Linked DNA regions of Homo sapiens. The protein of the gene in region 1 purifies or fractionates together with the protein of each later gene. This does not show direct contact. Each region holds a gene or a part of one and is shown on either strand. Other genes may lie near its edges.

Region 1 (3,749 bases):
ATGTGCTGTAAATGTAAAAGACACCAGATTTTGAATAGTTAATACAATTTAAAAAGGATATAAAATATCTCATTTATAGTTTTAAAATACTGACTATATGTTGAAATGATATTTTGGATATATTGAGTTAAATAAAAATATTATCAACAATTAACTTGTTTCTACTTTTTAAATGTGGCTGCACATGTGGCTGGCATTATATTTCATTTGGACAATGCTGGTCTATACCATTAGCTAATGAAGGTAGGAACAATCTCTACCCACTGCTGTGTCCCTAGTCTCTATCATATACTAGATGCTCAGTAAGTATTTACTGAATAATTTGGTATTTATGAGAACTCTGGGCTTTTATGAGAGCTGAGACGGGCAGCCCCATGTATGCTATGAACTTGAGGGAGGAAGAAACAGTTTTATTTTTCTCCAATCACTGTATTTCAAAGGGCTCTGTGGATTCTCTCTGTCCTGCTCTCTATCCACAATCCCCAGTCACCTACTACTATAGATTGAGGGGTGGGGGTGATGGCTGAAGGAACAAAGCTGGTGCAGCTGCTTCTATTTCAGTCCTATAGGAAGTGTCTTGATTATTTTACATTCTCCAGCTTTGGTCCTAGAAGCCAGGAAGGGCTCACCTCAACATCCTCAGAAACACAGATAGGGTTAGCTGGGGGTCACGGGGACTTTCCCAGGGTCATCTAGCAGGTCAGAGGTGAACAGGGCCTCAAACCTTGGTCTCCAGACCCCTTCCAGGACCCTGACCTCTAGCTATTAATACATCCTGATGTAGTCTCCTTCAGACTGGAACCCTCCCTCAAACCCCTCTCCCAACATTCACCTGTAATTTCTTGGGGCACCTAATGGCAGTTGTGCCTGGTCCCAGCAGAGCTTCCCTGGATGGCACCATCCCTCCTAGGGGCCGAAATGGATGGAAGGAAGGAGTGAGAGGATGGATGAATGGATGGGAAGATGGACGAGTGAATGAGTGAACAGGAGGGTGGGAGAATGGATGGGAAAGGAGGAAGGCTGGTTGGTAGGGTGTCTCTGCACGGGTGGAGAGGATGTATCGGAAGGAATTACCCACTTATCCCGTTCCAAGCAGACTCTGAAGAGCAGAGAGCCCTCGGCGATCAAAGTCCAGCCCCGTCACGTTTCTGCTAGAAGCCGAGGCGGGAGAAGTTGGGTGCTTTCCCCCGGGGCCCGCAGGGACGTCCAGGCAGAGCCGGAAGGGGGACGGGAGTTTGTGGGCCGGCCGGGGGGCTCTAGGCGACATCCCCCCATCCGCCCGCGCCTGCCGGTGCCAGGGTGGGGTAAGGCCCCCGCCCCCACCTCCGGAGGTGGCGGCCCCACGCGGCCCCAACAAACTGCCGTTGTCCCGCGGGCCGTGGGCCCGGCACACTGGGGCTTTGTCCGGCCCCCCGCCGCGACCCGAGGCGGGGGCCCCACATGACCGAAGGGGTAGGAGGAGCCTGCGGCGGCGGCGGTGGCAGCGGCGGCTCCACCACCATTTCCCTCCCGGGCCGGGGGTCGGCGGGCGGTGGCGGTGGCTGGGCAGGGCTGGGCAGGGCCGCGGACGCCAGGCCCCCCGTTCCCCGCCAGGCTGCAGGCGTCGGGCCTGGGCCGTCAGGGCAGCTGTGACCGGATCGCTTCCCGGGCGGCGAGCTGGGGGTGCACCCGGACCGCCGCCCCCGGGATCATGGGCAATGGCATGACCAAGGTAGGGGGCGGGCCCCGCGCAGCCTCCCCGGTCCCCGCCCCGGCCGCCGCGGCCCGGCGCTGACCAGCTCGGTCCGCCCGCCTCTGACCTTCTGTTCTCGCCGGTCTCCGTGCGGCGGCATCTCCGTGTCCCTGTGACTCGAGACCGCGGCTGTCGGGTCTCCCCCTCTCTGACCCTGCGTCTCTGTCCCCGCTGTGTCCGCCCTCTCTCCGTGACTCTGTGTGTCTCTCGCTGTCTTGCTGTGGCTGTCACTCCCAGGCTGTCTCCCAGTGAGTCCTGCTCTCCGTCTGCATGTGTCCCTCTCCCTTGTCGCTGACTCCTCGGCTCTCTCCGGGGCTGTTTCTCCATCCTGTCCCGCCTCTGCCTGTCATTGCCTTTCTGCCTCCCCAGCCCCAGAATTTCCATCCCTGCACCCTGCAAGTCTACCTCTCTCCTCTCCTCTCCTCCTAAGACCTGCCTTCCTCCTCTCCCCTCTCATACCCAAGCTGGCCTCCCTTGGTTCCCTCGGTTGGTTAACTGGCCCCCTAGCCTACCCTCCCCAGAGCCCCAGACCCCTCTCACAGAGGACTCAGGGCCCACAAAAGGGAAGAGAGTGCTCCCTGAGCCCTGAGGTCCATACCCTTCATGGGACAGAGAGGGGCTGTGGGCCCCCCAGCTGCCCTGGGGGTGGAAGGGGGTGCAGCCCCTGCCCCACTGACCCTTGCCTGTCCTTCCTCTAGGTACTTCCTGGACTCTACCTCGGAAACTTCATTGGTGAGCACTGCCCACTCTGTCCCGAGGCCATGGCACTCTGCCTGTCTCAGGCCTGTGTCCACCATTCATGCCCTGGCCCATGCATCTCAGGAATGGGGTTGGGGGCAGGGAAGCGGCCCCAGGCTGGGAGGGGGAAAAGGCTGATGGAGGACAAGGGGTGCACATGCAGGCGAGTGTCCCCAGGCTTGAAGGGACATGGAGGGAGCATGGGGGCCTGACACTGACATCCCTCCCCGCCATTCAGCCTTCCCCAGTGTTCTACCACCAGACCAAAGGGCCAGAGCAAAGGGCTCGGGGCCTGGGCTGTGGACCTGAGCAAGTCTACACCTGCGCTAAGCCTCAGCCTCCTCCTCAGCACAAAAGGTCCACCAGCTGCTGAGCACTCTTCTGGCCCTGAGGTTCTGGGTTGAGGTCTGTTTGCGGGTGCTGCTTCTAGCGGGGAAGCTGGGAACTCTTCCCCCCATAACTTCCTCCTTGTCAGAGGAGAGGTCCCTGGAGATGGGCTGGGCCTTCTTGTGAGCAGGGTCATGAGCACCAACACTGTCGCACCCCAGAGCCCTGGAGCAGCTGGGCAGCCTAGAGCTGGAAGTTGGGGGGGCGGTGAGCCGGCAAGCTTTGCATTCCCCACTCTCTCATCCATTCCTTCCACAATCTTCAGTCAGGAGGAGGGGACACCCATGTATAGATACCTTGTTCTTCAGGGGCTTCCAGGCTGGTGGCAGGCAGGCAGAGCTGAACATAGACCTTGGGTAGAAAACATGCTGGGTAGAAACCATGCTAAGGGGGCTGGGCGCAGTGGCTCACGCCTTTAATCCCAGCACTTTGGGAGGCGGAGGCGGGCAGACCACCTGAGGTCAGGAGTTCGAGACCAGCCTGGCCAACATAGTGAAACCCCGTCTCTACTAAAAATACAAAAATCAGCCAGGCACGATGGCAGGCGCCTGTAATCCCAGCTACTTGGGAGGCTGAGGCAGGAGAATCACTTGAACCCGGGAGGCGGGGGTTGCAGTCAGCCGAGATCGTGCCACTGCACTCCAGTCTGGGCAACAGAGCGAGACTCTGTCTCAAAAAAAAAAAAAAAAAAAAAGAGAAAGAAAAAAGAAAAGAAAACATGCTAAGGGGCAGACTGATCCAGGGCTTGGGTGACTCAAAGTGGGAAAATCATTTCCATCTGCAGAGTCAGAAAAAGCTTTAGAGAGGGAGGGGCTCAGGTGCTTCACCCTTGTAAATCCTGGTCCCTTCCTTCCTGGGAGCTCCCTCAGCCGCTCATGCCACCTTGATTTCT
Region 2 (3,649 bases), on another chromosome or scaffold:
AGAGATGAGAATGCTGAATTCAAAACAACTCTGATATTAGTAAAATGTAATATCCAGTAATTTGTTATTAATGACTGTAATTTAGTGGTAGGAGCCTCAAGGGAAAAATAAAGTATGTGGTTATTTTAGAGAAGAAAAATCTCAACCTGTCTTTTCCCACCTCCTCCCTCTCCTGCTTTTTCTCAGATTGTCAAGTGGTCAGACTGTTGTTTGCCATTAGCTTGCAGACCTGGGGATCCTTATCGGCTAATTGCTGAAGCAAGTGTGGACAACTTCAGCAAGCTGGGGGTGGCGTTCATGGAAGATAGACTCCACATGGATAATGGACTGGTACCCCAAAAGATTGTGTGTAAGTAACTTTAGAAAATGTTTTTATTGGCCAGGCATAGTGGCTCATGCCTGTAATCCCAGCACTTTGGAAGGCCGAGGCAGGAGGATCGCTTGGAGCCCAGGAGTTCGAGACCAGCCTGAGCAGCATAGACCCCTATCTCCAAAAAAACAAACAAACAAAAAAATTAGCTGGGTGTGGTGGTGCATGCCTGTGGTCCCGGCTACTTGGGAGGCTGAGATGGGAGGATCACTTGAGCTGGGAGGTTGAGGCCACAGTGAGCCATGATCACGCCACTGCATTCCCATGTGGGTGACAAAGTGAGACCCTGTTTTTATCATAGTGGGACACTATAAGTTATTAGCTTAAGGACTGTTGAGCACTCTTACTGGTATGACATAAAGGCTATGCTTGGTTTCAGTTTAATTCAGTCCACAGGTTTGATTTTACTGTAATAATATACAATTCATGCATGTGTCAAGATTTTTTTGGGGGGCTGCAGGGTACATTTTCAGTGCTTATTAAATTTCTTAAACAAGAAGTTTTCATGACTGCATTGCTCATGAGGTGGCATTCAAATTCAGAACCCATATAATATTTATTTCACATAGTTTAATACAGTATAACTAGTGTCTAGACTACAGTTCTGATTGAGTGGGAAGCATAGCTAGTGTTACTATGAAGTTCTAAATCAAACCGCTTTTTACTTAAAATATATGTATCACAATTTCTTGGGACAAATCGTTTTTCAGGAAACACACAAACTGTTCTTCCTTAATTAGACTTAAAAGCAGGCTTTTTATGTCTATGAATGTCTTCTTTCATCTGATGGGCAAATAAATGTCCCTTATCAGCTTTGGAAGTTTATGTAAATCCCTTAATATCCAGAATCACCTCGTACATGTCTCTAATACCATGTCCGACATGTAGCAAGTGCTCAATAAATGTTTTTGAATTAGTGATTGTCAACTTATGTTCCAGTCCTGAGACAAGATACTGGGAAGAATCTTCTCCCATTGATCCTATGGCATGTCTTGAGAGTGACATTTCACTGGGGCGTGCTGGGGTAGACTCTAGATATGTGTCCTTTTTATTGCTCAGTTTCATTATTGTGAAGGAGAATAACACCCAAGAAATAGAATCTGTAAGTAAGGAGGCAAAGGCACCTCTCTGAATCTCACTTTCTTCACCATTCCGTAAGAGGGTCTTAGGTTCTCCAATAGGTATAAAAGATGTTGGGCAAACTGCTGATTTCACTTGGGGTCTTCAGGTGGGAACAATTAGTGTTTCCAAAGGATGCCCCCGAGTTGAGGGGGGATGCAGGTGGGAGCCGTGCCAGAGGCTGTCCTGGAATGTAAGTCCCAGAATGCAGAGAGGGTGATGAGATTCTTGAGATGAGCTATGTGTCATACAAGAAGTGTTGATTAATTTTCTGTCTCTCTCTCCTATTCATGCCTTAGCGGTGCACTTGCAGGACTCCACTCTGAAGGAAGTTAAGGATCAGGTCTCAAACAAGCAAGCCCAGATCCTAGAGCCGAAGCCTGAACCTTCTCTTGAGATTAAGCCTGAGCAGGACGGTATGGAGCATGTTGGCAGAGATGACCCAAAGGCTCTTGGTGAAGAACCCAAACAAAGGAGAGGCAGTGCCTCTGGGAGTGAGCCTGCTGGGGACAGTGACAGGGGAGGGGGCCCCGTTGAGCATTATCACCTCCATCTGTCTAGTTGCCACGAGTGTCTGGAACTTGAGAACAGCACCATTGAGTCAGTCAAGTTTGCGTCTGCCGAGAACATTCCAGACCTTCCCTACGATTATAGCAGCAGTTTGGAGAGTGTTGCTGATGAGACCTCCCCCGAAAGAGAAGGGAGGAGAGTCAACCTCACGGGAAAGGCACCCAACATCCTCCTCTATGTGGGCTCCGACTCCCAGGAAGCCCTCGGCCGGTTCCACGAGGTCCGGTCTGTGCTGGCCGACTGTGTGGACATTGACAGTTATATTCTCTACCACCTGCTGGAGGACAGTGCTCTCAGAGACCCGTGGACGGACAACTGTCTGCTGTTGGTCATTGCTACCAGGGAGTCCATTCCCGAAGACCTGTACCAGAAGTTCATGGCCTATCTTTCTCAGGGAGGGAAGGTGTTGGGCCTGTCTTCATCCTTCACCTTTGGTGGCTTTCAGGTGACAAGCAAGGGTGCACTGCACAAGACAGTCCAGAACTTGGTTTTCTCCAAGGCTGACCAGAGCGAGGTGAAGCTCAGCGTCTTGAGCAGTGGCTGCAGGTACCAGGAAGGCCCCGTCCGGCTCAGCCCCGGCAGGCTCCAGGGCCACCTGGAGAATGAGGACAAGGACAGGATGATTGTGCATGTGCCTTTTGGAACTCGCGGGGGAGAAGCTGTTCTTTGCCAGGTACTCAGGGCAGCATGGATTTGGTGATCTTTGGGTATCTGTGGGTATTTTTGCGAGGGAATATGTCTTTTAAAGGTACACGCTTAAAAGTTTCAGGAGTTCGTGTGCTGCGGGCTGTTTTTGACTATTGGCTGGGAGCTTTTGCTGATAGTGAGCAGAAAGTTTAGTTTAGTTCAGGGCTTTCTTGAATACCCTGGTTAACCAAAAGACTTGTGAGGGAGGAACAAGGCAGCTGTCAGGGTTAAATGAGCTTGCTGGTTAACTGAGGCTTAGTCAGAAAATTCTCGTTTTGTTCTTTACTAGTAATGATCTTTCTCAAATTCATCGGTCTGCTTTCTTGCCTTAGAGCACCCCTTGGTTAATATAATTGAGTCTTTATTTAAGGTAGGAAGTTGAAACCATCAGGGTAGTGATTCTAGACGTCAGTGACCACTGCGATGAAATACTGCAGTTGATTGCCAAGGTAGTTGGTGTTGAAAACATCTTCAGGTTCCCAATTCCTTTCTTATGTTTTGTCACTCTTCCAAGTGCTGAAAAGAAAAACTTCAAATAAGAGAATATTGAAGCTACTTAGATTTGTGGCATACTAATACATAGGTAGGGGGAAAATGGAAAGAGGATGAAAGGAAAATGCTAGTTTCTTTTTCTTGCGTAGGAGATCCTTTGGCTCATCTTCTTTTTCCTTTTAGCTTTTTGTTTGTTTAAGCAAACGGTAGCGGATAAACTATTTCAGAATTCCTTGTCATTGACTCCAAATCTTTTAATCCTTAGGGGAAAAGGTTTTCATTAGAGTTAGATGAACATTCACTTGCCCTAAAGGATTTGATGCTCTAATGAGAAAACTACGCAGATGTAGATATTTTGTCCAGAAGAGTTCCCAAGATAAGTGTAATCGATTTTGTTTTATTATAGGGATC
Region 3 (3,649 bases), on another chromosome or scaffold:
TTCCTATACTCTGTCACTTACTCCTCATAAGACATCCGTGACAATAGTGTTATCATCCTCATTTTGCAGATAGGGAAATTAAGGCTTGGATTTTCACTTATCTAAGGGTGCATACCTCAAAAGTCTCAGATCCAGAGAGCTAGGCCTCCAGCTCAGATGATCTGACTCCAGATTCTGAACTCTTTGTTCTGTGTCGTATTGCCTGTCCTTTCCCTAGACTTGCCCTAAAAGAGAGGCGGATAACCCCTTAAAAACAGTTGAAAGAGGACTTTTATTCTCCTCACAGGTCAGTAACGGCTTCTTGGAGAAGCCAAGTAGCATTTAAACTGGGTGAATGATTTGTACGTTAGAAGAAAGGAAGAAAACTATTTCGAGGAGTGGAAATAGCATGAGCAGAGGATGGACAGGCATGGGGACTTCTAGGATATATACAGAAACTGGAAAGCAGTTCATTCCAACTGGAGCAAAAAGAATAAAAGAAGGGACTTGAGAAGGAAGGTTGGGTAAGGGGATGGAGGTTATTGGGGGGACATTGACTGCCAAGCTAAGGAGTTGGGAGTCTTTAGTTTTTGAGTGGGGGAGAAACATAATCAAACCGTAACATGATGAAACTCACTCTGGCTACCCCTTGGAGAACAGATTGGATGTGGAGAGCCTGCTGGCCAGAAGCCCAGGTAGGAAATGATGACAATGGTTTAGGTGAGAGATAAAGAGAGTATGGACTGGGGGTGGTTGTAAGAATGGTTAGAAAAAGGAGTTGATGCAAGAGGCCACAGTGTCACTAAAATTGGTAACTGATTGGATGTAGGCACTAACAGGAGGGAAGAATAAGTGATGGCAAGGCTTTGAGGCTGAATGGCCAAGGATGTCATTCACAGACACAGCCCAATAGGAGGAGGAGTGGGAGGCTTAGGAGTAGGGACTATGAATCTACCAGGGACCATAATGAGCCCTCCTGAAAAGCTGGTTCATCAAGCACCCTAAACTATCAAGAACCAGTTCATTCATTCATTTATTCTCTGAATACATATAAACATCTGTTACATGCCAGGTTGTTCTAGCCCCTAGGGATACGTTGCTAAAAAGACGAACTTCCTGCCCAAGCTCTACCAGGGGAGACAGAAGATAAAATTGTTCAGGTGGTGAGCAGTGCTTTGGAGAAAAATTAAGTAGGAAGAGGGATGACTGGGAGGAAGAATGGAGAAAGAGATCTGCCTTTAAATAGAATTGTCTTTGAGGAGGTGATATTTGAACAAAGACCTGAGTGAAGAGGAGACCTGGGGAACAGCATTCTAAAAAGAGGAGACCACAGGTGCAGAGGCCCTGGGGTAACAATAGCTTGGTGTCTTCAAGGAACCTGAAGTGTACCTGTAAGAGACAGACAAAGGGGGAAAGTGATAAGGAAAAAGGTGAGAGAGTGGGCAGAGCCAATCATGTAAGGGCCTATAGACCTGAAGAATGAGAAGCTGCATGATGTTAATGAATCTAAGAGAACACATATCCTATTCACCTTATATTCTTTGTGCCTAGCAAACCAAGCCTGGCCCTTCACAGTAAATCATTGTTGAATGAGTGAATGAATGAATGAATGAATGAATGTTGGAAATGACCATTTATGTGTGAGACTGCATATCTTAGACTTATATGAACCAATAAATAAAGATATTATACCATAGTAAGGGTATAGTAATCTGTACTATGATCAAAATAATAAAGCTCAGATAACTTGAATGCTGTGTTGTCACTCAAGTATGAAAATTTAAGTGAAGTCTGCATATTTTATTCAGTATGGCTTTATATTATAAACACTGCTGTTGACTAAGACGAAATAGTAAAACGTACCTGAAATGACTGTAAAACAATGAAAATAACATTTTTGGTCTTTCTTCATCCTCCTCCCCGCACAAATATACATCCTTCTGGCTTCATTTCAAATTTTCTCTTGCACTCTCAACCATTTCCTTCATAGAGGTTTTAAGGAAACTCATCTCTAACACAAAGACCCATATTTGCAGGACAAGATGCTATCATCTCCAGTAAACTGACAGATTCCCAAAAAGAGAAGGCAGTGGGGAGGGAGAAATTATTTATAGACATATAAATGCTTCGGGCACCTAATCAGTTGTTGAAATGGATCTACAGGTGGAGATGGGAAAACTGGCTGGACCATGTGAGGGGCTAGGTGACATGCAGGCTCAGTCTTAGAATCACAGGATCTCTGGACCCCCAGTCCAGATTCCATCTGCAGCCACAGGTCTGTCACCTGTCATATGTAGAAGGTAGAAACTCAGGTCATCTCAAGGGGAAAAAAGAAAAACAAAAACTAGAAACTCTTTTCTCTTTTAAGCAGTGTTATCACCAAAAGGCTCTTCCTTATCTTAGGGGATTGTGGAAAATAAGATTCCCCCTATTCTAGGCCGGGTGCGGTGGCTCACGCCTGTAATCCCAGCACTTTGAGAGGCCGAGGTGGGCGGATCATGAGGTCAGGAGATCGAGACTATCCTGGCTAACATGGTGAAATCCCGTGTCTACTAAAAATACAAAAAATTAGCCAGGCGCCGTGGCAGGCGCCTGTAGTCCCAGCTACTCAGGAGGCTGAGGCAGGAGAATGGCATGAACCCAGGAGGCGGAGCTTGCAGTGAGCCGAGATAGAGCCACTGCAGTACAGCCTGGGCGAAAGAGCGAGACTCCGTCTCAAAGAAAAAAAAAAAAAAATAGATTCCCCCCATTCTTTAACATCATCTCCATCTTTTCTGCATCTGGTGAGATGTGGAACGAGCATCATGGCCACCGGTGTCTGGCAAAACTCAGTAATTTCCAAACTCTTAGACTGAGAAAAGCTTTTCCCACTGTGCTGCAGCACATGGAACAGAAGCCACCCTCCTTCCTTTGTCCCCATTGAAGCAAGCGTGACTCAAGTTTCTATACCTGGGGTGTAGCATGTTGGATGGGGAGGGGATCCCCTCACACCAGATGCGGGAGATCCACTGTTTGCAGATTTGTAAGGGAACAAGCATCATGGGAATTCCTAACTTTGGGCTAATGTAAGGGATAAACTGTTCACAGCCAAATTTCCTGGTTAGTCCAGTAGCAAAATAAAGACCCTAAATTGCCCTCCTTTTTTGTGGTGAGGTAGTTGGTTGGAGTCATTAGAGAGACACACCAAGTCCTGAAGTGTCTTTCTGAAGAGTCGACATGAAACAGCCCCTCGCCTCCCATTCCTCTGCAAGCCTTTCGGGAGGGATTTGTGGGCCTCAATGGTGGCAGCATATGGGCATCTGGAATCAATTCTGAAGATTCTTGCAAAACTAACAATGTGTGTATTTCATCATCTGCCTAAAGATGTTGTCTGGTATAAATTATAAATTACAGTTGTGAAAATAACCATACTCCATGCTAGAGAACAAACGTAAGATGAACCATCATTTTATATGCCCTATTCTATGTTTTCTGTAAATCTGTATTTTGTAATAGTTGAAATTAGTCCACATATAGGTTTATAGCCTGCATTTTTCACTTAACATTTTGTCATGACTTCTCTGTTTATACTTGGTTGGCTGACCCCTGCTTTATTTAACTATGTCTTTATTGTTGCACATAGTCAATAATGAGCATCTCCAGGCACATAGCTTTTCCATCTCAGAGTCTC

The links.
Region 2: the proteins of DUSP15 (region 1) and HLCS purify together in Homo sapiens (affinity purification with mass spectrometry; one large-scale study listed by BioGRID and IntAct). This does not show direct contact.
Region 3: the proteins of DUSP15 (region 1) and PTPN5 purify together in Homo sapiens (affinity purification with mass spectrometry; one large-scale study listed by BioGRID and IntAct). This does not show direct contact.

Annotation. Positions count from the first base shown.
Region 1 is NC_000020.11:31,868,279-31,872,027, reverse strand, and holds the start of DUSP15 (dual specificity protein phosphatase 15), read left to right. Parts: upstream 1-1,500; 5' UTR 1,501-1,690; coding exon 1,691-1,711; intron 1,712-1,796; exon of another isoform or gene 1,797-2,218; intron 2,219-2,238; exon of another isoform or gene 2,239-2,322; intron 2,323-2,430; coding exon 2,431-2,464; intron 2,465-2,627; exon of another isoform or gene 2,628-2,875; intron 2,876-3,749. Other genes in the region: probable tubulin polyglutamylase TTLL9, read right to left, coding at 833-901. UniProt on the Homo sapiens protein: May dephosphorylate MAPK13, ATF2, ERBB3, PDGFRB and SNX6.
Region 2 is NC_000021.9:36,935,532-36,939,180, reverse strand, and holds part of HLCS (biotin--protein ligase), read left to right. Parts: intron 1-186; coding exon 187-349; intron 350-1,788; coding exon 1,789-2,732; intron 2,733-3,649. UniProt on the Homo sapiens protein: Biotin--protein ligase catalyzing the biotinylation of the 4 biotin-dependent carboxylases acetyl-CoA-carboxylase, pyruvate carboxylase, propionyl-CoA carboxylase, and methylcrotonyl-CoA carboxylase.
Region 3 is NC_000011.10:18,785,268-18,788,916, reverse strand, and holds part of PTPN5 (tyrosine-protein phosphatase non-receptor type 5), read left to right. Parts: intron 1-3,649. UniProt on the Homo sapiens protein: May regulate the activity of several effector molecules involved in synaptic plasticity and neuronal cell survival, including MAPKs, Src family kinases and NMDA receptors.